7 linked regions of the Homo sapiens genome follow. The protein of the gene in region 3 interacts with the protein of the main gene of each other region in a pairwise test. Each region holds a gene or a part of one and is shown on either strand. Other genes may lie near its edges. The genes, in order: NUP42, ADGRF5, SEC13, CLDN12, CFAP43, RAB11A and SEC16B.

Region 1 (3,500 bases), on a different chromosome or scaffold from region 3:
TATTCAGGAATCCACATTTTAAGAACCACTGCTTTAGGGCAACAGGCATTAGGTTCAATTTGGAATGGATTAATACTCAAGTACTAATACTTAAGCTGATTAAGGGCTTAATACTTTGTGGTTTCTTTATAGAAAATATCATTATCTGAAATTATCTTAGTTTATTTGCATCACTTATTGTTTTCCTCCCTCAAGAATGTAAGATTCATAAGGAAGGGATCTTGTCTGTCTTGCTCATCACTATATTCCTAGCACTTAGCACAAAAGAAATTCAGTAAATATTTGTTAAATGGACAAGTGAATAAATAAGAAGCGTTGTAATGCAAATGCTCACAGAAAATGAGCAACTAGAACTGAGACAGAGGAAAGATCCCAAGGTTCTGCGATATTGATTGCAAGAGCTCCCATTTGCAAGGTACCCACTGTTTCCTCAAAAGGACGGAGGCCCAGGAACACCCAGAGTGGGCTTGGGAAAGCCCGGTGGTCTAGGTTTCAGCCCAGAAAGGGCTTAGGGACTATGGACAAAAAAAAAAATAAAAATAAAAAATAAAAAAAGAGAGAGAGAATATTCTAAAGCAAATGCTATTCCAGGCCAGAGAGAGAGAGAGAGACAGAGAATATTCTAAAGCAAATGCTATTCCAGGCCAGGTGTGGTGGCTCACGCCTATAATCCCAGCACTTTAGGAGCCTGTGGCGGGCGGATCACCTGAGGTCAGGAGTTCTAGACTAGACTGGCCAACATGGTAAAACCCCGTCTCTAGAAAAATACAAAAATTAGCCAGGTGTGGTAGCGGGCAACTGTAATCCCAGCTACTCGGGAGGCTGAGGCAGGAGAATCACTTGAACCTGGGAGGCAGAGGTCACAGTGAGCCGAGATCGCGTCACTGCACTCCAGCCTGGAGGACAAGAGTGAAACTCCGTCTCAAAAAAAAAAAAAAAAAAAAAAAAGTTGCTATCCCTGTAGCCCAGCTAAGCCTCCTCACATTTAAACATTATCTCCAGAACAGGTCTCAACACAACTATTCTTAGAAGGAAAGACAGGGAAGAAAGAACAGAACCAGGCAGCCAAGGCCTTAATGACAGGCAGGATGACTCTTCTATTCACAACAGGAAGCTAAGAGGTTCCAAAGTTGTACATACAGGGAATCAAGAACGTAGAGTCTCTTCCTGGGCTTTATTTAAATGTTTTCTCCCAAGAACTATATGTCTTAAAAGACTATATTCTCCAACCTTAATCTCTAAATTATGAAGTTTGGCTAGAATACTCGAATACTTTAAACAATGCCCAAACTCTCCTAGTTGTAGCTAAGTTGGTAGTTGATTTCTTTATTTGGCATTCTTTTGGTTTTAGAAAATAATAGTTTTAGAACATACTTTAAAAATGCACAATTTTTCAGTTACCTGAAATATTAGGTTTCTTTTTCACTGGTGAATAAACAGAAAACATCCACTGCCCTGATGATTCCCAAACCTCCATATCTTTTACAATTCCTTCCCTGCAAAAAAGAAAAAAAAAAAAAGAGTAAAGGATCTTCTTAGCTGCTTGGTAAAATTTATTGTTAATGGTTTTCCACAACTGAAAATTTAAATTCTAGTAAATACTTTTCCATTATATTTTCTGAAGAGTGTTCTTTAAAGCACAAGTTTATAGAAGTGTGAACTATATTTCATGGTTACAAATAGTATTATAATGTCAGAGAAGTTAATGAGTTTGGCTTTCCAATACACTGACCCATTAACCAATGTTAATACATAACATTGGTTATGATATGTAACCATATCATATGGTATCATTGGTATGATATGTAACATTGGTTATGATAGTAATTACATAAATACTATCATAGATACCATACTTTTTTTAGGAATTAAAATCTAAAATACTAACTTTAATCTTTGTTAATTATCACAAACATCAATAATCATTTAACTGGGAAGAACAAAGTACCACTTACGTGATACAGAATCATAATATTTTAAAAGTGGGTTATAGGACTTCAGAGATCATTTTATCTAATTCTCACATTTTGCAACAGGGGAAACAGACCCACATCCATACAACTAATCTGTGGTAATGCCGTGGGTAGATTCGGCTCTAAATTAAAGTTTCTCCCTACTTAGACTATGTCAATAAAAGGAGAATTATCACAGAGAAAACTGTATTAAATTTAGAATTGCAACAAATGCAGAAAGGAAGGTTTTGTTTGCTCATTTACTTAAAAAAAAATCGGTTGTATATGGTATATGACTCAACATGTCTACAACTGGTTCTGATTTAATTAGGATAAGTAAAAGACTAACCAATTACATTTAAATTCCATCCTAGTCACCATGAGTTGAGAGAACATTACAGATAGCCAAGCATTGTTTTGACACCAGCCATAAATTTTACCATAAATATTCTCAAGAAATGTCATGTATCTACTCCATAATAAATGTAGGAAATCAAATGAGATCAGTTTGAATAGGATAATCCAAGTAAAAGTTTTAGAAAGAAATAAGATATGTGGCTGGGTATGGTGGCTTATGCCTATAATCCCAGCACTTTGGGAGGCTGAGGCAGGCAGATCACTTGAGGTCAAGAGTTCAAGACCAGCCTGGCCAACATGGTAAAACCCTATCTCTACTAAAAACACAAAAAATTAGCTGGCTTGGTGGCAGGAGCCTGTAATCCCAGCTACTTGGGAGGCTGAGGCAGAAGAATGGCTTGAGCCCAGAAGGCGGAGGCTGCAGCGAGCCGAGATTGTACCACTGCACTCTAGCCTGGGCAACAGAGCAAGACTCCGTCTCAAAATAAATAAATAAATAAATAAATGAGATGGTAAAATGACCTCCAAGTTCACAAGTTGTTCTAAATTACATCATACTTTGTAAAGGACTTGTAAGTTAGAATGAACTTAAGCAGGACTAATCTTAGAAAGATATTCACAATATAGTGTTATCAACACAAAGTGGAAAAAGCGTAATTACCCCTAGGAAGGCACTCTACTATTATAGAAAGATGATATATTTTTAAGTGAAATAAAATCTAGGGTAATACACAGCAAAAGAGTGGCTATCTATGAGTGATAGAATTGTGGGTGATTTTTCTTCTTTTTGCTACTCTGATTTAAAAATAATGCATTATTTCTTTTTTTAAAGAAAATATTGTATTGTGAAAAGATGTTACAAAAAAAGAGAAACAACAAAGATTGTAGGTGAAAAAACATAAGCAAATGGATAGTAATTTTCCTGAAAACTTTCACTTACAGAAGTTTCTTTTCATCTTTCTGCTCATCAGGACTAAGTGAAGCAAATGGGTTCTCAGACAATCCAAAGCCTTCCTTCCTGTTAGTTGAAGCTCCAGAATCAAAAGAACTGAAATATGGCTTTTCTTGATCTCTGCTGCCCCCCCATGGTGTGGATTTGGAGAAACTGGATGGCTGGATGACATTGGAATATCTCTGGCTAGTTGTATTCCATCCACGTCTATTATTACCTAAAATAAACAATAAAACAAA
Region 2 (3,500 bases), on a different chromosome or scaffold from region 3:
GGACAAGCAGGGAGAAACTGGAGGCCACTACTCACCTGTTTTACCAAACAAATTGTTAAATCTCCTTGATATTGGAGAACTCATAGAAAACACAGGTGTGGATGAACCCAGGGATGTTGACTAGAAGAGAGAAAAAAAGGGACAATCACAAAGCAAATTTGTGGGACCAAAGCTGTTTCCATCTCTAGAAGGATTGATTTTCCACCCTCTAGTGGTCACTGCCGGAATCTCTAGTCCCACTCCCAGAGGTCACATTAAAATACTGGAATCTTATCATCTGTATTAGAAAAATAACTGTCAAATACAAGTTTTATTGTTTGTTAGGCTTCTAGCATTTTCTGACATGTGAAAGGCAGTCAGATATATCCAAGGGCAATAGTTGTGTTCCAAAATGAACTACAGAAAATTCTATCCATTATTATTCTTCAACTTGTTTTCTCTAATGCCTTGAATCCCCCCAGAAGATTGCTTCTCATTGAACGTTTGATTTCAACCTTAAGTTTATATCATATATTATTTTAAAACCTATTTAAATATGTGGAGTAGCATCTCAATGACAGCTCTATGGCTCTATTTAATAGACAGAATGACTTGAGAAGCAAAAACAATGGAATGATCTATGCCAAATACAGCTGTTGAGGGAGACAGGTTTGAGGATGCAATATATTTAGCCTAATTGATCAAAATCCCAAAGAAAAAATTTAGTACTCTGTACTTCAGAATGCTAGTGGAATACATGATGTTATAAAATGAAAAGTCTCTGCAGAGAAAAAGTTTACCTTTGAGTGCTGTGAAGACCATCTCGACAATGAAAACTTATTCAGCAAAGCTTCCTGTACCTGCATTGTTAAAAAGAAGCTATCGTAACTTCAACATGCCACAAGCACTTCAGACTTTTCTAGAAACATGAAACTGTCATTGCTCTTACCTTCAGATCCCAGAGGCATCCAAAGAGTAAAATGAATAATCCCTGAGAAAAAAAAGATTGAAAAGAAGTGCATTTTAATTATAGTCTATTGTCCAGCAAAGGAGGAAGTACTGTTAACCTGGTGTTAAATTTGTACTACTTCTTTTTCCTTCTGAGTTTATGGAATGAGTCCAGTACATGATACTGTTCAAAGACAGGCATTTGGTCCACACCAAGGGACTCTAAATGTTATGATGTTAGGAAGATATTTTCTATTTTCCAATTTTCCTTTAGTTGAAAACTGGAGGTCCTGTTGGTTATGCTATTAATACACCTCTTGTGTCTACAATATTCTTTACATAGCTGTGATAAGAATCTGGGCTATGGGGTGGGATAACTAGTTCCTTCCAAATGAGGCATATCATGAAGGTCATTACATATGAACTACATAGCTTGGAGACACAGGCCCAGTAGCAGAAATCAAGGTTCATATGTTCTTGGCACAAGCATCCTGAAAGCAGTATCTCGAGTGTGCCTCCAGCCTCTGCCTCTTCACAAGTTTACAGTGGCCTCAATCCTTGGGCAAGTTTTTTTCTATCCTTACCACCTCTCCATTGGGTGAAACAGAATTAATCACTTCCTTCCTTGTACTTTAAAGGCTTGCTATCTATACCTCTGTTATAGTTCTTCTAACAAACTGGCCTGCACTGTAGTTAGTTATGTGCTGCAGGAGAGCGAAGAAGATGTTTTTTCATTGTAGTATAATCAAGCAGATTGTCTGGCATTCACAGGACATTCATTCTCTGATTTTTGATGTTTCCAGAGAAGCTGCTATGTGGTACATAGGATTTATTTCATTCAAATGATTATTGAGAACCTACTCTGTACCAAGGTCTCTATCAGGCATAGAGGTATAGTGATGAACAAGAAAGGGGCAATCCCTGTCCTCACAAAGACAGGATTTTCATTTAGGAGATAATAGACTACATCAAGATAATCTTAGACAAATGGGGATTTTCCTTTTACTAGTGTAATCAGTGTATTTAGCAGAGACTGGCAAATGACACTAAATTATAATGTAGGTGATAAAAAGCATGAGGTGCCATAGGATCAGAAGAATGTGTCCTTTCCATCTGATTGAGTTCTCATTATTACTGCTCTTTAGAGCTGAGGCTTCCTCTGGGCTGAAATCCTTCCCCATTCCTACTCTTGTTTGTGTTTCTATCATTAATTTGTCCTACAGGAATAAAATCTTCCTGAAAGCTCCGCACTGTAAAACTCACCTGGAAGACATTGAGGATGGCAAATATGATATGGAACACAAGGTTGGTCCCTGGGAACACAGTGGTGAGACCAAAACCCCAAGTGAGGCCCAAGAGTGGTGTGAGGACCCCAATGCTCTTGCTGATCTGAAACAGGCTGCTCTTCTCCTGCTTGCATGGCTTGTCTCCAATGGAAGGCCTCAGGATCTTGGTGATGACCACAATAGTGATGGTTATGTTCACCACCACAATGATCAGTGCTGGGATGGCGAAAGCCAGCAGGGCCTTGGTGTCCTCCCAGTTGAGCCAACAGACATTCTTCCTCGTATAGACTTCCCGGGGCTGGGTGGCTCCCAGCGTGATGACCGAGATGGCAAGTGGGCAGCCATAGCCAAGACAGAAGGCAATGGCTTTCTGAGTGGACCTGCTTGTTTCATGCAGAATGAAAACCAGGCGATAGAACAGCATGAGGCCCAGTGTCAGCATCCAGAAGAAGACGCTGAGGTAGAAGAAGTGGATGAAGAAGGTGGCAGCCACACAGGCTGTCTTGCAGAGTATGTAGCGATTGTCCTGGATGGCAGCGACCACAATGAACCAGGTGTTGGCGACCAGAAGGGAGGCAGCGATATTCACTATGCAGGTGTGGCGCATATAAGAAGTCCGGTTCTTGGTCACCGATTTCCACACCACAGCTTCCACAACTAGACAGGCTGCCAAGCTCAAGATGGAAAAGCCCACCCCAACATAAGAAATAATATCCAGGAGTATTCCCAGGAGAGAACTAGGATCTGGGGAGTCAGGGGACATGAGGATGGAGAATGATGTTAGGTGGTCACAGATACAGGTGACATTGTCCCCATCACCTTCTTCTACATAGCACCCACTGCTGTCCCACCCCCCTGTGTTGTTGGCAAGCCTGAAGTTCCAGAAGACACACTTCGTTTCGCCGCCTGAAGGGCTATTGTTCTTAAAAGTCATTGAAATCCTGAATGGCATAGTTGTATTGTGGCTGACAGTGGTTGTCATCACTAAGCTCTCTGCAAAGTTATTTTCCTGGATATCCTGGGCAAGGATGGCTTGGAGAGTTGGGAAAGCCATGGTGACAATAGACGAATCCGACTGCAAGTTTTCTAGATAGCTCTTGTCAATGACCACATTGCCCCAGAGGTCAAAGTATGGGAAAACAAACCTCTGTTGATAGGTTTCTGGGTGGCTGGACTTGATTACCATGCTGCTCATCTGCACATTAGTTTGGGAGAAGGACAAAGGAGGGCTATCTCCCGACTGTAATGCTTGGGAAAATCTTTCCACTGAATGTAGTAGCTGTGAAC
Region 3 (3,500 bases):
TTTAGGGGACCACGTATTGCTTGAGGCATCATCACAGGTCCAAATGAACACACGACCATCCTAGGAAGAAACAGGATAGAGTCAGGAGGTGGAGTCAAGACTCCTGCGTTTGTGATGTGATGTCCTCCCAGTCTAGAGCCACCCGGCACCTCTCTGCAGGAACAGGGTGGGGGATTCAAAGGGGAGCCGAGGACCTCTGGGGCGTCCACAGCTTTGTTTCTGTCTCTTCACACTGGTTAAGAGTCTCCCGGATTCCTTTTCTCATCCGGGTTTCGGAGGTGGACTCTGTCTGCATTGCTAACTCAGATTTTCTCTGGGGTTTTCCTCATGCCTGCCAAGTCACTTCCACTGGCCGTCTATACCTTCTCAACTGAATGGGCAGAGCTCTCCAAAAACCAAGCTCCAAGAATGAGAAGGCACAAGTAAAAAAGCACAAAAATCCCAAGTTTAGAACCAAACCAAACAGGTTCCCATGATGTGAAAGGCCTAGCTGGCTCCCTCTAGGGTGGTGGTGTATAACTGAAGGCTCACCCTTGGCCGTCCTTGCTGTCTGGGAAGGGTGGCTTGGTAGCTAAGCGTATAATTCCCATCCAACCCCATCGTTGCTTGGGAACACTTGGAACTGCACCTGGGCACCTCGGCGCCCTAGTCTCACATGGGTCAGAAGGGAAAATTCATCCCGAATCCGCCTCCTTCTTGGTGCCGGTTCTGTTGTAGCTGTCTCATCTCAGTGGAGGCAGGCCACTTGTGGCTTCTGACCAAGACTTCCCCACACAATGACCTGACTCCCTGTGCTCTGGGCCAAAGGTGCCTGTTGCTCTCCCTTTACCTTCCCAGAGGACTTTCTGCTAAGGAGACTAAGAGCTGATGGGCCTGACTCGAGACTAAATGACAAGGGATACTCATGGCCCTGGGCTGACCTGGGAGCAGCTGGCGATGGTGCTGGTGGGCAGGCCGATGGAGGGGGCCCAGGCCACATCTCGAACCCAGTCACTGTGCGCTTCTAGCTTCTGCTCCTCCTTCCACTGGCCGTCCTCCTCCTCCCTAACAGTGGGGACAGAAAGAGAATCAGCAGGGGGCCGTTCCCACACCTCAACTCCTCCCCAACCCAACAGGCTCTGCCTGGGGTGGAGAAGCGATTCCATCTTTCTTCTTTCATTCATGGAGTTTGTGGCATTTTATTCCCTTCACCCCAGCTGTAAAAAAAACCCTCCAGAAAATGCTCTGCTTCCACAGCCAAAGAGTCAGCTCCAACAGTTGGGAATTAGGTGAACAGGTGTTGTGTTGTTTTTCAAGGATGTCCTCCAACAGATTGAAAACAGTATTTTACTGGCAGGAGGGAGAAAGAAAGGTGACCTTGTTTCTTGTGAGTGTGGCTGAGTCATGGTGAGTAGGGTAAAGGGTAGAAGTGTCCCCTCAAAGAGAAGGCCACACATCCCTACTTACTTCCACAGCTTGATGAGGTTGTCACAGCCACCTGATGCAAACCTCTTGATGTAATTGGGTTTCTGCCCCGATGGGTGGTCTATGAGGCTTCCAGGTACAACAGCAGGGGCCCAGCTGACGGCATTGCAGCCAATCTGTAAAGATGGGACACATGGTGACTCTGCCTTGCAAGAGAACACTGCTTCTGCAGACCCAAGCCTGCTGTCCCTCTCCCCTCCGCTTCTCAGGACTGGAGTGTGTGTGAAGGCTGACATGAAGCACTCATCATGGGGTCCACTGCTCAGAATTCTCCCTCAAGGATCCCAACAGTGTGTGCATTTTTCTGCAGTGTGCGCTAAAAGTAGAAATTAAGAACTCCCACAAGTTTAAGAAACAGGACATTTTCTAAACACATGAAAGAATGGTACATTGGAGCTTTTTTTTAAGAAAAATCTTTTATTATAAAGTAATAGATCAAGAAACAAGAATTCTGCCACCTGCCTGAAAAGCCCTGTCATTATGCCCTTCCTAATCACAGCTCCCTCTTCCACTATAAGTAACCACTGCCCTAACTTCTAACCCATTTTCCCCCCATTTTATCACCCAAATGTGCACCCCTAGATACTATAGTTTAGTCTTGTCCATTAAACATTTTTTTGGATGTTTTTTACATCTCCTACTTTGCAGATTCCTCCTCTGATTTTTTTCCTTACAATTTTTCTGCTGAAGAGAGCCTAGTCTCTCGGTCTGGGTTTTGCTGCTTCATATGCAGTTCAATATGTTCCTCTGAATTCCTGAAAACTGTCAGCTGGAGCCAAGACTGGACAGACTCAGGTGTGATCCCTTTGGCAAGACTAGAGCTGGTGCGTTCTCTCATCAGGAGGCACGTTAGATTGTCTCTTATATTAACAGCTGTCAATAACTCAGGCCTCTCTTAATTCACTGGGGCTTGTAAAATGGTGATACTCTAATTCCATCCTTTCTTTGTCATTTATTCCATGGAATGCTCCAGATAGGGACACTTCTTCTCATTAACTATTCAGTTACCCAGGGATAGAGGTCTGATATGGTTTGGCTGTGTCCCTACTCAAATCTCATCTTGAATTCCCACGTGTTGTGGGAGGGACCTGGTAGGAGGTAATTGTATCACAGGGGCAAGTCTTTCCCATGCTGTTCTCATGATAGTGAATAAGTCTCGCTAGATCTGACGATTTTAAAAATGGGAGTTTTTCTGCACAAGCTCTCTCTTTTGCCTGCTGCCATCCACGTAAGCTGTGACTTGTTCCTCCTTGCCTTCTGCCATGACTGTGAGGTTTCCCCAGCTACGTGGAACTGTGAGTTCTCCATCCTCTTTCCTTTGTAAATTGCTCAGTCTTGGGTATGTCTTTGCCAGCAGCGAGAAAACAGACTAATACAAGGTCAAAAAGGAAAGGCTGGATAAACGCTTGATTCTTTCTGAACTGGTTCTATCACTTTCCAAAGATGACTGATTCTCCTCTTTATTTATTATTAACAATTTTTTTTTTTAAAAATTGAGACAGGGTCTCACTGTCACCCAGGCTAGAGTGCAGGCTGGTAAGATCATGGTTCACTGCAGCCTCAAACTTCGTAGGCTCAAGTGATCCTCCCACCTCAGACTCCCAAAGTACTGGGATTATAGGTGTGAGCCACTGCCTTTTTTTTTTTTTTGAGACAGAGTCTGGCTCTGTTGCCCAGGATGGAGTGCAGAGGCGCGATTTTGACTCACTGCAACCTCCACCTCCCAGGTTCAAGTGATTCTCCTGCCTCAGCCTCCCGTGTAGCTGGGACTGCAGGTGTGTGCCACCACGCCTGGCTAATTTTTGTATTTTTAGTAGCGTCGGGGTGTGTTAGTCCATTTTCACGCTGCTGATAAAGACATACCTGAGACTGGGCAGTTTACAAAAAAAAGAGAGGTTTAATGGACTTACAGCTCCATGTAGCTGGGGAGGCCTCACAATCATGGCAGAAGGCAAGGGAGGAGCAAGTGACATCTCACATGGATGGCAGCAAAAAGGGAGAGAGAGCCTGTGCAGGTGAACTCCCCTTCATAAAAC
Region 4 (4,206 bases), on a different chromosome or scaffold from region 3:
GAATTTAAAGAAGGCTGGAGCAGGAACAGTGGCTAAGAGCTTTAGGAAGTCATGTATCCAATAGACCCTGTACTATTTTTTCCAGGCACAATTCTGAGTTATAGTTACAAGAGTTACGAGAGTACATATGTCTAATAGCAGCTAGCTTCTATTTTTTTGAGACAGGGTCTCGCTTTCTCACCCAGGCTGGAGCACAGTGGTGCAATCATGGCTCACTGCAGCCTCGACCTCCGAGGCTCAAGCAATCCTCCCACCTCAGCTTCCAGAGTAGCTGGGACTATAGGCATGTACCACCACAACTGGCTAATTTTTTAAAATTTTCTCATACAGTCAGGATCTCGCTATGTTGCCCAGGATGGTCTCAAACTCCTGGGCTCAAGGGATCCTTCCACCTCAGCCTCTCAAAGCGCTAGGGTTACAGGGCTGAGCCACCATGCCCAGCCCTAACTTAATTCTTGATGGTAACATTGAGAGTTCCTTCTACCTATAATTTGGGTTTTCTTAGAAACTGTAAGTCATCAGTCATTGTACTCACAAGAGAGGTCTGTCCTATACCTCTATTTTGTTGAACAAGAGAAAAAAAAAGAGTCATTGTTGGCAGATGTGGTAGCAGGAGGGAGGGAAATAAGATATAATTAAAGGACGTACTTACGCTTTGAGGTACCTGACAGTTCCAAAACAGCTTTATTCAGCTTAGAAGAGACACATGAAGATCTGAATACAGAGTAGCAATAATCTGAGCCTAAAGAAATAGGAAAAATACTCCAAATTAACATAGTACTTCTCTAAAAACCCTGCTTGAATTCCCATGGATTAGAAGAAATGATTAGTAATCACCTAAAACCAATGAAATGTTATACTAAAAAGGGCAGACAGTAAGTTTTTTAAAAAGGCAGTTTAGCAGGGGCACAGTGGCTTACACCTGTAATCCCAACACTTTGGGAAGCTGAGGCGGGATGATCACTTGAGCCCGAGTTCAAGACCAGCCTGGCCAACATGGCAAAACCCCATCTCTCCTAAAAATACAAAAATTAGCTGGGCATGGTGGCTCATGCCTATAGTCCCAGCCATGTGGGAGGTTAAGGCACAAGAACCGCTTGAACCTGGGAGGTGGAGGTTACCGTGAGCTGAGATTGCACCACTGCACTCCAGTGTTGGTGACAGAGAGAGATTCTGGCTCAAAAAATAATAATAATAATAATTAGCCAGGTGTGATGGTGCACACGTGTTGTCCCAGTTTCTTGGGAGGCTGACATGGAAGGATCACTTGAGCCCAGGAGTTTGAGGACACAGTGAGTCATGATCATGCCACTGCACTCCAGCCTGGATGACATAGCAATGATCTGTCTCAAATAATAAAAAAAAAAAAATAAAAAGGCTGTTTATTCCTTAATTCATGCATTATATATGAGAAATATATAGAATATAGAAAAATACGTAGAAATAGAAGAAAAAAATTAACTCATCTTGTGACTTGAGAATATAGGAGAAATGAGGATGAAAAACACTTTGCTGTCTTGGGAATATATGATTGATATTTAATGAATGTTTTAGATCATTTTCATGACTACGGTGAAAGGATAAGGAAGGTGGTGAAAGACTGTGCAGTTGTCTTGGAAGTAAAAGAAATTTTCTTTTACATTTTTAAAAAAGGACACTGACAACAAGACCAGACAAAGTTGATCTGAATTCTGCATCCTGAAATTTGCAACCAGAATGCTTAAAAAAAAAATAGTTCCACCAATGGCTCAACCTGATACTTAAAGATGCTTCTATATATCTACTTTAAACATTAGCCACTTCCTCTTCAAATACCATTTATCTCAAACAGGTAGGATGAGAATGGAAACTCATTATTATGTGCGCCTGAGAGTTTCCTGGATTGAGGCGTTCATCACTAGCCCTATTACGATCATTATGTAGAATGCTCTCTGCAACTGGCTGCTCGGAGATTTCAGTCAAGTCCCCCCCAACCCCTCCCCCGCCCCAAATGTGTTTCTTGGGTTGGTATCAATCATAATTGCACACTCCAAAGTCAGAGGAAATCGTTTTACAATTAATAACGCACAATAGAATCCTTGAGCAATCATTTTAAGTGAGGTCACCAAGTCTGACCTTTCCCTAACGTGGCTATGGGCCCCTTACAAGGCCGGGTGCACAGAACTTACAGGAAAGCAAACCAAGCTTCCAGAGCAATCCGCATCCCCCTCCGCCCCCCTCCTCCCCCCTCCGCCTCCTCTCCTCCTCCCTCTTTTCGAAGAGCCCTGTGTGTGGTAGACCCAGACCTGGCAGAAGGAAGAAAACGCCCTACTAGTTAGAGCCAATGGAGAGAGACCGCAACAGTGACTGTTAACGCTCTCAGAGCTAGCCCATCCCTGCAACACTGAGTGGGTTTGAACCGCAAGCAGGTCATCATTACGCAACCAGCATCAGCTGGTTATTCAAAAATAGCAGCTTGGGCTCCCCCACAAACCCGCGCCAGCAAAGCTCCCAGTCCTTGGCGGCTCCGGCAACACACCTCGACATTTCCATACTCCTGTGTACAAAATAATTTTTTAAAGCCTTACCAAATACCTACTCAATTTTCACATCCACAGATGTGGTCAGCGTTTTCCAACGCTCCTGATTCTCCTGGATTTAGCCATTTTACATAAAATCCTCAGTTACTTATGCAAAAGACCCAGAAATCGGAACATCTTGACCACACCTACCTGCTTCTCACACGCAGGGCATTTTACTCGCCCACACTGAGGAGCCTCTTGGAGCGTCTCCCTCTCAGCGTCCCAGGAAGTGCGTTCCCAGCGAGGTACACCGGAGGCTTCTGGGAGCGCAGTCAGGTTTTCCCGTGGCCCTGAACGGCAATGCCCTGGATGGCTGGGACTACAATTCCCAGAATCCACTGGGCCGCCAGCCGCAGGCAACATCCTGCGACCACCTCCTGCCCTTCCCTTTCTCTGCCTCCACCTCCCCGGATTTCTCTTGCACCTTATGTTCCGTCTAGAATTGGGTTATCGGTTAAAGAAAAAAAAAAGGCAAAACGAAACAAAACTAAAAGTAGTTTTGAGTTGGATACCTAAGTACCCAGGTGACTTGAAGGTGACTTGCCCGTAGGAAGGTTAGCAAAAATTCTTAAATCTGGATTTTTTTTCCCCTCAAAGTGTTTATCTAGGCAAAAAGTAGAAAAAGAGCTCAAAGTCTAGAACCAAACAGCCCAGATTTGTATGGGGCTTTGCTGTGTATTGATTGGGTGGCCCTGGGAAAGTTATCTCTACATCTGGAGGTTATCTGGAAAAATGGGGATAAGATCACCCACATCATACTGTTGTCTTGAAAACTGAGGGACCTAATATAGCTAAAGTACAGTATAGCTAGCTATTAGATATTTGAACTAATTTTACTCTCCCACACAATTTCTACTGTCCTGTCCCTTTCTCTGTTGGCTTCTCTCCAATGTGAAGTCCTGCATTAGTGAATGAATATCTGAATTAAACTAAAAGATTCCAAAGTCCTAAATAGCAATGATCTGATTTTTTAAAAAATAAAGGATGCTGAAGTGTTGTGATGCCTACTACTTCGAAATGATCACACATACACACACACATACACACACACAAATGGATATAAAGTGTGGCAAAGTGTATAATTGTTGGATTCATGAAGAATATGTTTGTGGGTGTCTCTTGTACTATTCTTTCAAATTCTCTGTATCTTAGAAATTTTTCAAAATAAAAAGAAGAAAAAGTATCATAGTTTATACAAAAGGATGGCACCCATCCCAAGTAAGTATAACCTTGGCAAGTAAGGTAACCCCTTTGTGCCTCAAGGTCTCATCTGTAACAGTATATCTACATCAGAAAATTGTGATGAGGATTAAATGAATTACTACAGAGACAGTTACAACAGTATCTGACGCATAATAAGGACTATATGTTTGCTATTAGCATTTTCCATTTTGCGTTGCTCTAGTAACAATGAGACTATTTGTCAGAGACTTTTTAAAAAGGGAGGGTAGAGAGGCTACTATCAGTCCACTGCTACCTCCTTCTTATGTGTGATACTGCTTTAGAGGATGGATAAGGTTATCTAAGGCCAGAAGCAATCCGATCCCAAAGCCAGACTGGGAAATGTAATAATGAGGAAGAAAGATAGCATTGGGTGGTGAAAAGATTTCTGGGCTCCAGGCCAGCTCTGGCAATAGCAGATGGA
Region 5 (4,168 bases), on a different chromosome or scaffold from region 3:
AAGGCAGGAGAATCACTTGAACCCAGGAGGTGGAGGCTGCAGTGAGCCAAGATCATGCCACTGCACTCCAGCCTGGGTGATAGAGCCAGACTCTGTTAAAATAAAATAAATAAAATAAACACTAATAATTCAAATGGTAGGCAACATTGAGCACTTGGCATACATACACATACAGCATATTATATATTTTCATCTATCATCATCACCGCAGCCTTCACATTAGACACCATCTTTATCCCTATTTCATGAATGAGGAAATTGAGGCTCAGAGACTTGACTTTAGAAGCTATACAAACATCAATTCACCTGGATTTTCAACAAATATTAGGAAAGAAAAAAAAGTCATTGCTCTGAAAAAGGCAATAGTCTTCTAGCCCAGTGCTTCTCAAAGTTTAATGTGCATATGAATCACCTGGGAATTTTGTTAAAATGCAGATTCTGATTGAGTAGCTCTGATGTGGGAGCCAAGTTTCTGCATTTATAACAAGCTTCCCAGGTAGCACCAATGTTGCTGGTAAACAGACCACACTTTGAACAGCAAGGCTCTAGCTAACATAATTTAAATCCTCAGTGATCAGCTTGATTCCTTCTTTAAAAATGTATATTAAAAAAAAAAATGGGGCCAGGCGTGGTGGCTCATGCCTGTAATCTCAGCACTTTGGGAGGGTGAGGCAGGCGGATCACTAGGTCAGGAGTTGGAGAACAGCCTGACCAACATGGTGAAACCCCATCTCTACTAAAAATACAAAAATTAGCTGGGCGTGGTGGTGCGCACCTGTAATCCCAGCTACTCAGGAGGCTGAGGCAGGAGAATCACTTGAACCTGGGAGGCAGAGATTGCAGTGAGCCAAGATCGCACCACTGCACTCCAGCCTAGGCAACAGGGCAAAACTCCATCTCAAAACAAACACAAAAAACAAACAAAAAAAACCTTTCAAAAAATAAATCTTCACTTATAATAGATTTAGTCAACTCTTTAAACAAAATCCTTCAATTATGGGCAGAGGAAGGGTTCTCTAGAATACCTTTCAATTTGGTCCTTCTGGTCAATCCTGGAAAGCTGTATACGTAGATGAGAGGTTTTAGCTTCCGGTCAGAAAAAGCCACAACTTCACAGGGGATGTTAGTTGCCATGACGCCCACAATTCCATTACTACACTGCAGTACAGTCTTTTTCTTGGTTTCAATATTAATAAATATTACATAATTCCCACAAGGGTAGCAAATGGTGTTGTCGTTGACAAAATGAACATTCTGCTTAGGGAATCCTTGCACCCATCTTTGGGAAAAGATATGTCAACATCAATATAATACATTTCAAATACTTTTTTTTTTTTAACAAAGCAAAGGGTCATCAAAATCTTTGAAACATTTCTATTTTCATGTCCTTTCTGCCCCCAATTTCTAAGATAAAAGAACACACATGCTGGCTGTGAGATCCATTTGAGTCAATGAATTATAGAAATTTAAATGTAGACCTAAAGTTCCGTAGGTCTCCCAGGCCTTCTTCAGATAACTTTTTCAGCAAAGGAAACTCTCTGACCAAACCTGAGAAAGTCTCAGAAGGACTTCTGGGGTCTTCTATACTTGGAAGACAAAAAGTGAAAATAACAGAGAAAAGAGCTTGATCTCAACACAGTGGCATCCTGGGCCATTCTTTTATAATTAGTTTGATTTTTTTAAATAAACTTTAAAAAACAACTTTGCATAGGACAGCCTGCTTTGTGGTTGTTAGCAGAGTAGGAAAATTGCTTATTTACACAGATGAAGAGTATGTGGCCATATTTTAGATTTAAAAATACAGATAAACGTAGAAAATAAAAGGAATGAAGTCGACGTGAATGAAAGGCTAGCACACAAAAAGAACATACTCTCAAGTAAGGAGTGCGTGCTAGGTGTATGCTAGAAAGGAGAGGAGATGAAGGAGATTCTATTTTTATTTAAATATTAAAGGTATGCTTGAAGATGGTGGAAAAGGCAAGTGAAGGACACTGGTTTGGTGAGAAACCTCGAGACATTAGAGTGTCCAGGACTAGCAGGGGATGCTGTATAGAGTGGAGGTGGGGGCTGGGAGGAACACTCTAGAATGTAGGGGAAAAAATGCCACCTATATCTGCGCAGTGCTTGATGCTTTTCAAAGGCTACTATAAATGCAAATAAATCCAAAGCTAGTGGATAGGAGTTAGAAGGAAAGGATTCAGGGACCTAACTTTGGGGAAAATCACCAAAGGTAGCAAGGACGGGATCCGGGCTGTCGCCAGGTGGAGGGGGAGGGGGATGTGATCAGAAGACCCGGATCACTAGCGGGAATCCTGAGCTAGAAGGAAGAGATGAAGGGTGCAGGGGACGTTGCTGGGTAAGAGACGGAGGGTCAGGGTCGCAGAATAAGGAGTGGGAAAGACAACTGGGGACGGGGTCAAGGAACAAGGGGATGGGGAGCGGACAGGGGAGGTCACACGGGGAGGGAGGCTGAGGGAAGGCACTGGGGGCAGAGGGGAAGAGGTCGAAGCTGCGGGGAAAGCCGCCCTAAGGAACCGGAGGGAGAGGAGGGAGGAGGGGACTTGGGGCAGGAGGTTCCGCGAGACCCAGATCGGTCGCGGGGCCGTGAACACCGCACCTCACGGACAAGGACGCGCCGCCGGCGGAGTGGGGGCCTTCGTCGCGCTCCCGGCCTTGCGCCATGGGCAGTGTTTTCCTCAGGCGGGAGCAGGCAGCGCACGCAGCACCCCAGGGCGGGTCGGTTACCTTTCCGCCGCCGCGGGGCTGCGGGCCGCGACGCCGCTGCTGTGTACACCCGTATCCCGGAGACCGTAAGCCCCGCGCCCATTGGCTCTGCGCTTTGGCCCGCTCCCTTCTGAGCCGAGCAGATTGGTGGAAGGTCTGCCGCTCTCGGCCAATGGGTGAGCGGCAAGCCAAGCGAGGGGCGGGCCCCTTGCTGTTCAAAGTGTGGTCTGTTTACCAGCAACATTGGTGCTACCTGGGAAGCTTGTTATAAATGCAGAAACTTGGCTCCCACACCAGATCTACTCAATCAGAATCTGCATTTTAACAAATTTCCCCAGGTCCGGGCCAATAATTGCAAGTAAGACTCATGCCTACAATCTCCGCGCTTTCGAAGGTCAGAGCGGGAGGATCGCTTGAGGCTAGGAGTTGAAGACCAGCCTGGAAGACATAGCGAAACCTGCCGCGCCCGTGCCGCATCTCTACAAAAAAATTTAAAAAGCAGCCGGGCATGGTGGTGCACGCCTGTAGTCCCAGCTACTTGGGAGACTGAAGTGGGAGGATCGCTTGAGCCCAGGAGTTCAAGGCTGCGGTGAGCTGGGATGACGCCACAGCACTCCAGCCTGGGCGACAGAGCGAGACCTGTCTCTAAATAAATAATTATTTTTAAAAATCAATAAATTTCTAAACAGACTTTCATTTAGAGTGCTGACTGTGCCAAACATTGTTGCAACGTCTTCACATCTCCCATCAGCCCCATTTTACAGATAAGTAACGTGAGGAAAAGAGAAGCACATAATTTGTCCATGGCTACAAAGTTGAGTGGGACTTTATTTATTTATATTATTTATTTATTTATTTTTGAGATAGGGTCTCACTCCGTTGCCCAGGCTGGAGGGCAGTGGCTTGATCTTGGCTCACTGCAACCTCCATCTCCTGGGTTCAAGCGATTCTCCTGCCTCAGCCTCCCAAGTAGCTGAGATTACAGGCACGTGCTACCATGCCCAGCTAATTTTTTGTATTTTTAGTAGAGACGGGTTTTCACCATGATGACCAGGCTGGTTTCAAATTCTTGACCTCAAGTGATTCGCCCGCCTTGGCCTCCCAGAGTGCTGCGATTACAGGCGTGAGCCACCTTGCCCAGCCCTGAGTGGGACTTAAACGCAGGTCTAGCTAATTTAGAGCTCCAAGCCCTTAAGTACCATATAACACTTTGAAATGTACCCTCTTGCTTCCTCAGGGAAGCAGACAGCTCTGGAAGTAACCTGATTGAATGGTCGGCAGCTTGTCATTCCTTCTTCTCTCCCATACCTTCCCTTAGACTCCCTCCCTTACCCTTCTTCCTTTCCCTTCAGTCGTCTTCCCTTCTCTACCCTTCCCTTCCTTTCTTTAGGTCTTTCCTTCCTGTCTTGCTTTCTTCTCTCCATTTCTTTCACAAATATTTACA
Region 6 (2,999 bases), on a different chromosome or scaffold from region 3:
CTCAAAGGAAAAATGTAATCTGACAGCATAAGAAATAATCCCCCTATAACTGTTTATTAGAATGTGAATATAATCCAAATCAATAACTAAAAAAAAATCAAATTACAGAGCATGCATAAAATACAAAGTAGCAATTTACAAATAGATAATATTATCTTCATAACTAATACACTAAAATAATAAAATGGCTATAGAAGAAAACCAAAATGACTGACTACAGCAATGCCTTCCGTGTGCCCCACACATCATGAGCACCGCAAGAGACAAAAGATTAACTATGAAATATAGTAATCTAAGCAAGCCCACACATACATATTTTTGGGGATTTCCCACCATCCTGAATAGTATCACTGCAGTTGACACAACTTCCAGGAAACTGCAGAGTAAGTGCTTAATATTATCCACGAGAAAGCAAAACTAAATATTAGTGTGCACATTTCTGAATGAGAAACTAATTGCTTCATTGATTTCAACAATGTAGTGGAAGAAAACTATTTCAGATCTCTACAATGCCTAAATGCATTCTATTTAAACTCAAGGTACTATTTCATTTTACATACTAAAAGAATACATGCCTTTAAGTGGTACCACTTGAGCAGAAATTAACCTCTCACTGTACTCTTCAGACATACTGAAACCAAAGATTTAACTGGACTATATTCTATAATATACTGCAAAACTCAAATATTAGCATTGTTAAAATAATTATCCATGCCTGCTGGTGGATATGGTGATAAAACTAGGTTGTATTTCACTTACTGGAAGGTTCTAAGACAAAATTAACACTTCAAAATTTGACACTACCAGCATTAAACCAATTATTGCCTGAGCAATAAAATGCCACATAATCTACCGCTTGGAAATTATTATAGATCATTTAAATCTTTTGGGCTGCCTGATCATTGCCAACAGAGGCACCCGAGATGGAATACCACAAGTCTCTTCAGTTCCCAGCCTACCAGGCAGCACTGTTTAACTTATGGCCCCACAACCATACTACTAATGAAACCGTAACAATCTTTTGTGTTTACTAAGAGAATTCTCCAGAAAAAGTGCCCCCCTCTCTAATCAACTTTGATGCTTACAAAAATTAAAAAACAAAATTTACTCAACTACATAAACCTATTAAGGCATTTTAGAAATTCATGTCCAGAATAATGGAAAATTTTCAAGCTCTCAAAATCCTGCTATGTTTATAGGGCAATTCTTAGATTTGTGGAAATGTACACTGCACTGAGAGAAGAGTGTATTACCTATAAGCTGCTCTGTGGCAAAATGGTAGCTTATTTCTAAGGTCTTCTTAGTTTGATTTGATCAAGACCAATAGGTCTGAGCTTCAAGTGATCAAGTTCTATTATGTCCTACATACAGTGACAGGCTTCCATGATGAAAAGTAAACAATAACTGAGGAATCCAAACATTCAGTTTATTAAACTAAGGCTAGTGAAGCCATAGCATGAAAAAAAGCTGCAGTCATTCGGGACAAGTGGATGATTTTATAAAGCTAAAATCAAAAGACTTAGGACATGGAAAAATTCATAAGTATGAAGTAATAAAACACAAAAGTGACACAAGAATTACAAATATATTTAAATCTCAGACCTGGGAAATGGACTATACACAGCCTTCTAGGGGAGAAGAGAAATGCCTTAGATGTTCTGACAGCACTGCACCTTTGGCTTGTTTTCAGTGGTTGGTGGAACATGAATAGGAACCACATTGTTGCTTGGAGACATGTCATTTTCGCGTCTGTCTGACATTTGCTTCTGAGAAACAATGCGGTAAATCTCTGAAGGAAAAAAGAAACCACAATACTTAGTGTGAATAAACCTATCATAGTTAGGATAAAAGATACATAAAGGTAGGAGATATATTTGCATCAAAGTCCCTAAGGAAACTGAACAGAGAATACATAAATTTAAAGTTTTATTTTCAAACAGCCACTGATTAGATTCAACCCTTTATTTTAACAATTGCCCTTTGGGTAAGAAAAGAAACAAAGGTTTTTCCATGTCAGAGGGAAAGGTTCACCAGTCAAATAAATCTTTGTTTAAAGAGGTAAACCAGGCCAGGCAGATCACCTGAGGTCAGGAGTTCAAGACCAGCCTGACCAACATGGTGAAACCCTGTCTCTACAAAAATACAAAAATTAGCCAAGCATGATGGTGGGTGCCTGTAATCCCAGCTACTCGGGAGGCTGAGGCAGGAGAATCACTTGAACCCGGGAGGCGGAGGTTGTCGTGAGATGAGATCGTGCCACTGCACTCCAGCCTAGACAACAGAGCAAGACTCGGTCTCAAAAAAAAAAAAAAGAGGTAAGCCAATAGCATTACATTGTTTATGGACTTAGATTCAAAGTAAACCATAAGAGTATTTTCAGTCTACCTTTACCCCAAAAAACAAACAAACAAACAAAAATTGCCTACACACAATGACATTGTACCACACAAAAAATAAATAAATTTGCACTATCAGACGCATTCGGCAGAGTACATCTTAACAAACATGCTAAAATCCCAAACGATTCTTGGAAGGGAAAAAAAGATAATGTGTTTATCAGTGACCTCCTGAACAAAACTTAAATTGTAATTAAAGAATGATACAAAATAGGCAACTTAAGATGTTATATGTAAACTCTATTTTTATTTCATGACACTTATCAAAAATAATTTAGTGTCTGCCTCTTTTACTAAGTGTTAAACTCTGTAAGGATCAAAACTGTGTCTGTCTTACTGCTGTACTGCAACATATAACATGTGTTGTGATAAATAAATAACCGCATGAATGTCACTAAATTCCTCCACAATAAGTATCTGTATGTAACACGTTTGGTCTTATACTGCACTGCCTAAAAGTTGTTCCCTGTGACTAGATTATAAAGTCCTTAAGAACAGAGAATGTACCTTATTTTTGTTTACTCTCCCAGTTGTCCCTCCAAAAACACTACTCTCAAAAAGCAAGATAATTCTAAAAATGTGTCAAATTAACACAATTAGCCT
Region 7 (3,500 bases), on a different chromosome or scaffold from region 3:
GAAAAGAAAAATATTCTGACTGTTGGATTGAATGATATTTGATTCTTTATATGATACTTCACTATTAGATTTTTCTATAACAATAATGTACCACTTCAGTCAGGAAAAAAAAAAAAACGGAAAAACATTAAAGTTTGTTAAGACCTGTACCCCTGTTTTTCTACTTTAAAAAGTTATAGGATGTAACCCTCCAACCAGGAGAAGCTGAAGAACGCCTCAGGTTTGGGACCAACACTGCCCATTGCTGAGGGCAGGGGTGTGTCCAATCAGAGCTAGATGGAATGATTCACCAGACATGAGGACCTTACAGCCTAACTGAGGAGAAAAGACAGGCAGGCACTGTCACAGCTACCACAGATCTTTCTTTGAAATAAAGCCAGGTAAAAATTAAAACAAGGAAATATCAACAGTCTTCCATGGCAGGACAGGGTAGGGCAAGCGTTTTGTGCAGCACTGAGAAGATGTCAGAGGTAACAGAGATCTGAGAGGCCAAAACGAATCAGCTCAGTTGCTCCCTCTCTCCCCATGGACACAGGTTTGTGGGGCTGAGCGTAAACAAGAACACAGCCTCCCGCCCAGCTCCCAGGAGTTGGAATAGGAAAAGGCAAGGCGAGATGTGGAAGAGAAAGCTGCTGCAACACTGAGGAGGAGCTTGCATGTGGCTGGGAAACCAAGGCAACTGGTAAAAACCAGAAGCATTTGAGTGGGCAGTGGCATCTTTTATGCTGTGCGCTCTCACCTGTGGTTTGGAAATGACCTCTTGGCCATCAGGAGGCTGGGAAGTTTCTTGAGACACTGTGTTCTCTCCTGCATCACAAACAGAAATGGAAATAGCAATTGGAAGTTGTGCTTTTCCCATCTATCCTGAAGAAGGGTAACTGGGACACAATCAGCTTTCTTAACTGCAGCAGAAGCTCGGAGCCCATAAGCCCAAGCCAATCACAGCAAATACAAAGAATGCTCACGTAGCTCATCTCAATCCCAGCCACCCCAGGACATGCTGTTCAACTCATCCTCTACTTCCAAAGCCACTCTTCAGGAATCTTGGAAATCAGAGCAACATCAAGCTAGGTCACAGGGATCCTCCACCACTCCTCTCCATCTGAGCCTCCATCTTGGACAGGACCTAATCCTGGAAGGTCTAAGAGCTAATCATTCTAGATGGCTTCCACCATCTCCCTGGCATCACTCAGCATTGCTTACCCATACTCAGCCCTTGTTGTCGAAGGTCTGATGGGCCTGAAGAAACTCGGGACCAAGACAGAAACATGGGTTTCTGCTGGAGAGCCTGATAGTAAGCTCTTGAGTGCAGGATGATTGGAGAAAGAGAACTTGGCCTATATTTTTCCACCCTGTAATCTCTCTCCTAGAAACTATGTAATCATTTGGATGGCAGGAGTGGCTCCATTTGCCCTGCTGTACCCAGTGGAGAGATGGACTGGGCTGGAAGATAGCAATCTCCTTCAGATGTATGCAAAGCACCAATACAGTGGCTGAAAACTAGCAGGCCCTCCGTAACGGGCACACATCCACGCATCTGTGTCTTTCCCAGCTCCAACCCTACCTCCTCTGACTGGTCCCACCACCTCCCTTTCCTGCTTCCTCCCCACCCAGACCCTACATTCAATGTGGCCACCCTAGCGGCCAGGTCTTACCAGGGCCCAGGTGTGTCTGCAGCATTTCCTCCCAGACTGTTCCTCCAGTGGCCTCTGTCACTGCCACGCTGCTGCCAGTCCCTGGTAGATGGGTCTCAGGAACTGAGTAAAAAGGCCTCGGTGTCCCTGTCTGCCCTGCACCCCCTCCTGCTGGGTAGGAGCCCGGCTGGAGGGGAAAGGGCTGCTGTGGGCTGGGCTGGAGCAGGCAGGTCTGCTCAGGTGTCAGCCACAGAGCTGAGCGGTACCCAGGGGCTTCAGAGTAGCCTTGACATCCAGAAAAGTCCTGGTAGAAAGTGTTTTCTAAGGACGTGGAACAAAGGTAAAGAAGTCAGACCTGAAATGCGGCATTTGCATACTGATCACACCAGAAACATTCCTGCTTATGTCTTCTTTGGAAAGCAGTCACAAGGACGAGCTGTCTAATGCGGCTTCCAGTAACATGATGACAAGTAAAACACAGTGATTGTAACATCCTCATTGCTGTTTACAGAATTTTGTTTGTTTGTTTTTTTCTTCACTAGTGTACCCTAAAAATAAAATCCTAAGCTCCTCCATTGACTTAACAGACTCCCTTTTGGCCAAGGGGACCCCAGAAAAACCTTAAAAACTGAGTTCCCAGCCATGACAGGATGGGAGGTGAGACACCCCTCATTATACCCCCTCTCTTTTGCAGTTTAGACACAACTGACCAGCATTAATGTTAAAACAGAGATCTTAAGACTAACAGAAAAGACTCTTGGTGGCCATAAGATACCAAACTATACACAGAACCTAAAGCCCTGCCAGGCAATGGTTAAGTCCCGCACCCCTACACCTTAAGAAAAAACTGCGTTCTCACGGCCACAAGGTTTTTTTTCTCTGGCAGCTCAACAAGCACTGGCCTCAAGATGAGCAATGTTAGAACAATTACAACTCATTCCATTCACAAATGCTGACTAAATGAGCCTCCGTTCCATCAGCCATGACCACAGCTTTGATTGGACAAGACTGATATCAGTAACTTTCTCCAGATAAGAAGACCACCAACCATGAACTGGGTCTGGCCAGTTTACAGAGGCTCCCCACTTCAGTGCTTCTGTGTCCCGAAAAGATCTTTTGACGCATAGGGCCTAACTGTAATACACTTAAAGGATAAGTCTCCACCCCAAGGTGAACATGGGTCATGTGTTACACGCACATTAGTTCATTATCCATGTGTGAGGACCTCCTTTGTGAACAGTCACAGCTCCTCCTATAACCTGTTAAATATGTATGTTTGATCAACCCATTCAACTTAAATTCTTGTCTTACCTCTCCTTCCCTCAAAGTGCCTGGCTATACTTCCCAGCCTGCGGGATGGCCACCTTGCAGGATGGAACCCTTTGTAAGAAATAAAGTCTCCTTTCCAAATGTACACATTGTATGACTTTTTTTTTAAGTTAACACTGCCTTGTATGATCCCTGAGCCTCTAGCCAGTGGGTTGGGAGGGCTGAAATTACCATCCTATCTAACTCCACACCTTTTTATTTTTTGATAAATTATTTCTTCTTTAAGGACTTCCTGATGGACATGGGTATTTAAAACTTAGAAAGCTTCCAGCTAAAAACCCAAATCAGACCACAGAAATCATGGCTCTGTTCTTAAGGAATCAGAGTACATTTGCCCTGGAAAAGACCTGACTGGTAACATAAACTAAGGTGTGGACCTATAACAAGATTGGTCACAGGACTGGCATGGGTGGCCAACCCGCCTGCTCCACTGGGCACCAAGGCATCAGGAGGCAGGGCTGTGGGGAAGCACAATCCACAGGCACCCAGCCGGGCTCTCCTCCACCCCCCACCTTTACAGATCCTGCTACACAGTGA

Evidence for each region.
Region 1: the proteins of SEC13 (region 3) and NUP42 interact in a two-hybrid assay, tested with the Homo sapiens proteins (one study listed by IntAct).
Region 2: the proteins of SEC13 (region 3) and ADGRF5 interact in binary tests that used the Homo sapiens proteins (3 or more experiments, as listed by UniProt).
Region 4: the proteins of SEC13 (region 3) and CLDN12 interact in a two-hybrid assay, tested with the Homo sapiens proteins (one large-scale study listed by BioGRID and IntAct).
Region 5: the proteins of SEC13 (region 3) and CFAP43 interact in a two-hybrid assay, tested with the Homo sapiens proteins (one large-scale study listed by BioGRID).
Region 6: the proteins of SEC13 (region 3) and RAB11A interact in a two-hybrid assay, tested with the Homo sapiens proteins (one study listed by BioGRID).
Region 7: the proteins of SEC13 (region 3) and SEC16B interact in binary tests that used the Homo sapiens proteins (3 or more experiments, as listed by UniProt).

Annotation. Positions count from the first base shown.
Region 1 is NC_000007.14:23,185,048-23,188,547, reverse strand, and holds part of NUP42 (nucleoporin NUP42), read right to left. Parts: intron 3,479-3,500; coding exon 3,250-3,478; exon of another isoform or gene 3,246-3,249; intron 1,497-3,245; coding exon 1,402-1,496; intron 1-1,401.
Region 2 is NC_000006.12:46,855,939-46,859,438, forward strand, and holds part of ADGRF5 (adhesion G protein-coupled receptor F5 precursor), read right to left. Parts: coding exon 2,191-3,500; intron 971-2,190; coding exon 929-970; intron 840-928; coding exon 780-839; intron 121-779; coding exon 36-120; intron 1-35. UniProt on the Homo sapiens protein: Adhesion G protein-coupled receptor. In alveolar type II (ATII or AT2) cells, required for normal lung surfactant homeostasis.
Region 3 is NC_000003.12:10,304,113-10,307,612, forward strand, and holds part of SEC13 (protein SEC13 homolog), read right to left. Parts: intron 1,581-3,500; coding exon 1,447-1,580; intron 1,045-1,446; coding exon 921-1,044; intron 61-920; coding exon 1-60. UniProt on the Homo sapiens protein: Functions as a component of the nuclear pore complex (NPC) and the COPII coat. At the endoplasmic reticulum, SEC13 is involved in the biogenesis of COPII-coated vesicles.
Region 4 is NC_000007.14:90,402,055-90,406,260, reverse strand, and holds the start of CLDN12 (claudin-12), read right to left. Parts: upstream 2,801-4,206; 5' UTR 2,712-2,800; intron 743-2,711; 5' UTR 653-742; exon of another isoform or gene 649-652; intron 1-648.
Region 5 is NC_000010.11:104,229,565-104,233,732, forward strand, and holds the start of CFAP43 (cilia- and flagella-associated protein 43), read right to left. Parts: upstream 2,801-4,168; 5' UTR 2,683-2,800; coding exon 2,618-2,682; intron 1,280-2,617; coding exon 1,026-1,279; intron 1-1,025.
Region 6 is NC_000015.10:65,886,491-65,889,489, reverse strand, and holds part of RAB11A (ras-related protein Rab-11A), read right to left. Parts: intron 1,790-2,999; coding exon 1,650-1,789; 3' UTR 1-1,649. UniProt on the Homo sapiens protein: The small GTPases Rab are key regulators of intracellular membrane trafficking, from the formation of transport vesicles to their fusion with membranes.
Region 7 is NC_000001.11:177,935,559-177,939,058, forward strand, and holds part of SEC16B (protein transport protein Sec16B), read right to left. Parts: intron 1,956-3,500; coding exon 1,656-1,955; intron 808-1,655; coding exon 740-807; intron 1-739. Other genes in the region: CRYZL2P-SEC16B (protein transport protein Sec16B), read right to left, coding at 740-807, 1,656-1,955. UniProt on the Homo sapiens protein: Plays a role in the organization of the endoplasmic reticulum exit sites (ERES), also known as transitional endoplasmic reticulum (tER). Required for secretory cargo traffic from the endoplasmic reticulum to the Golgi apparatus.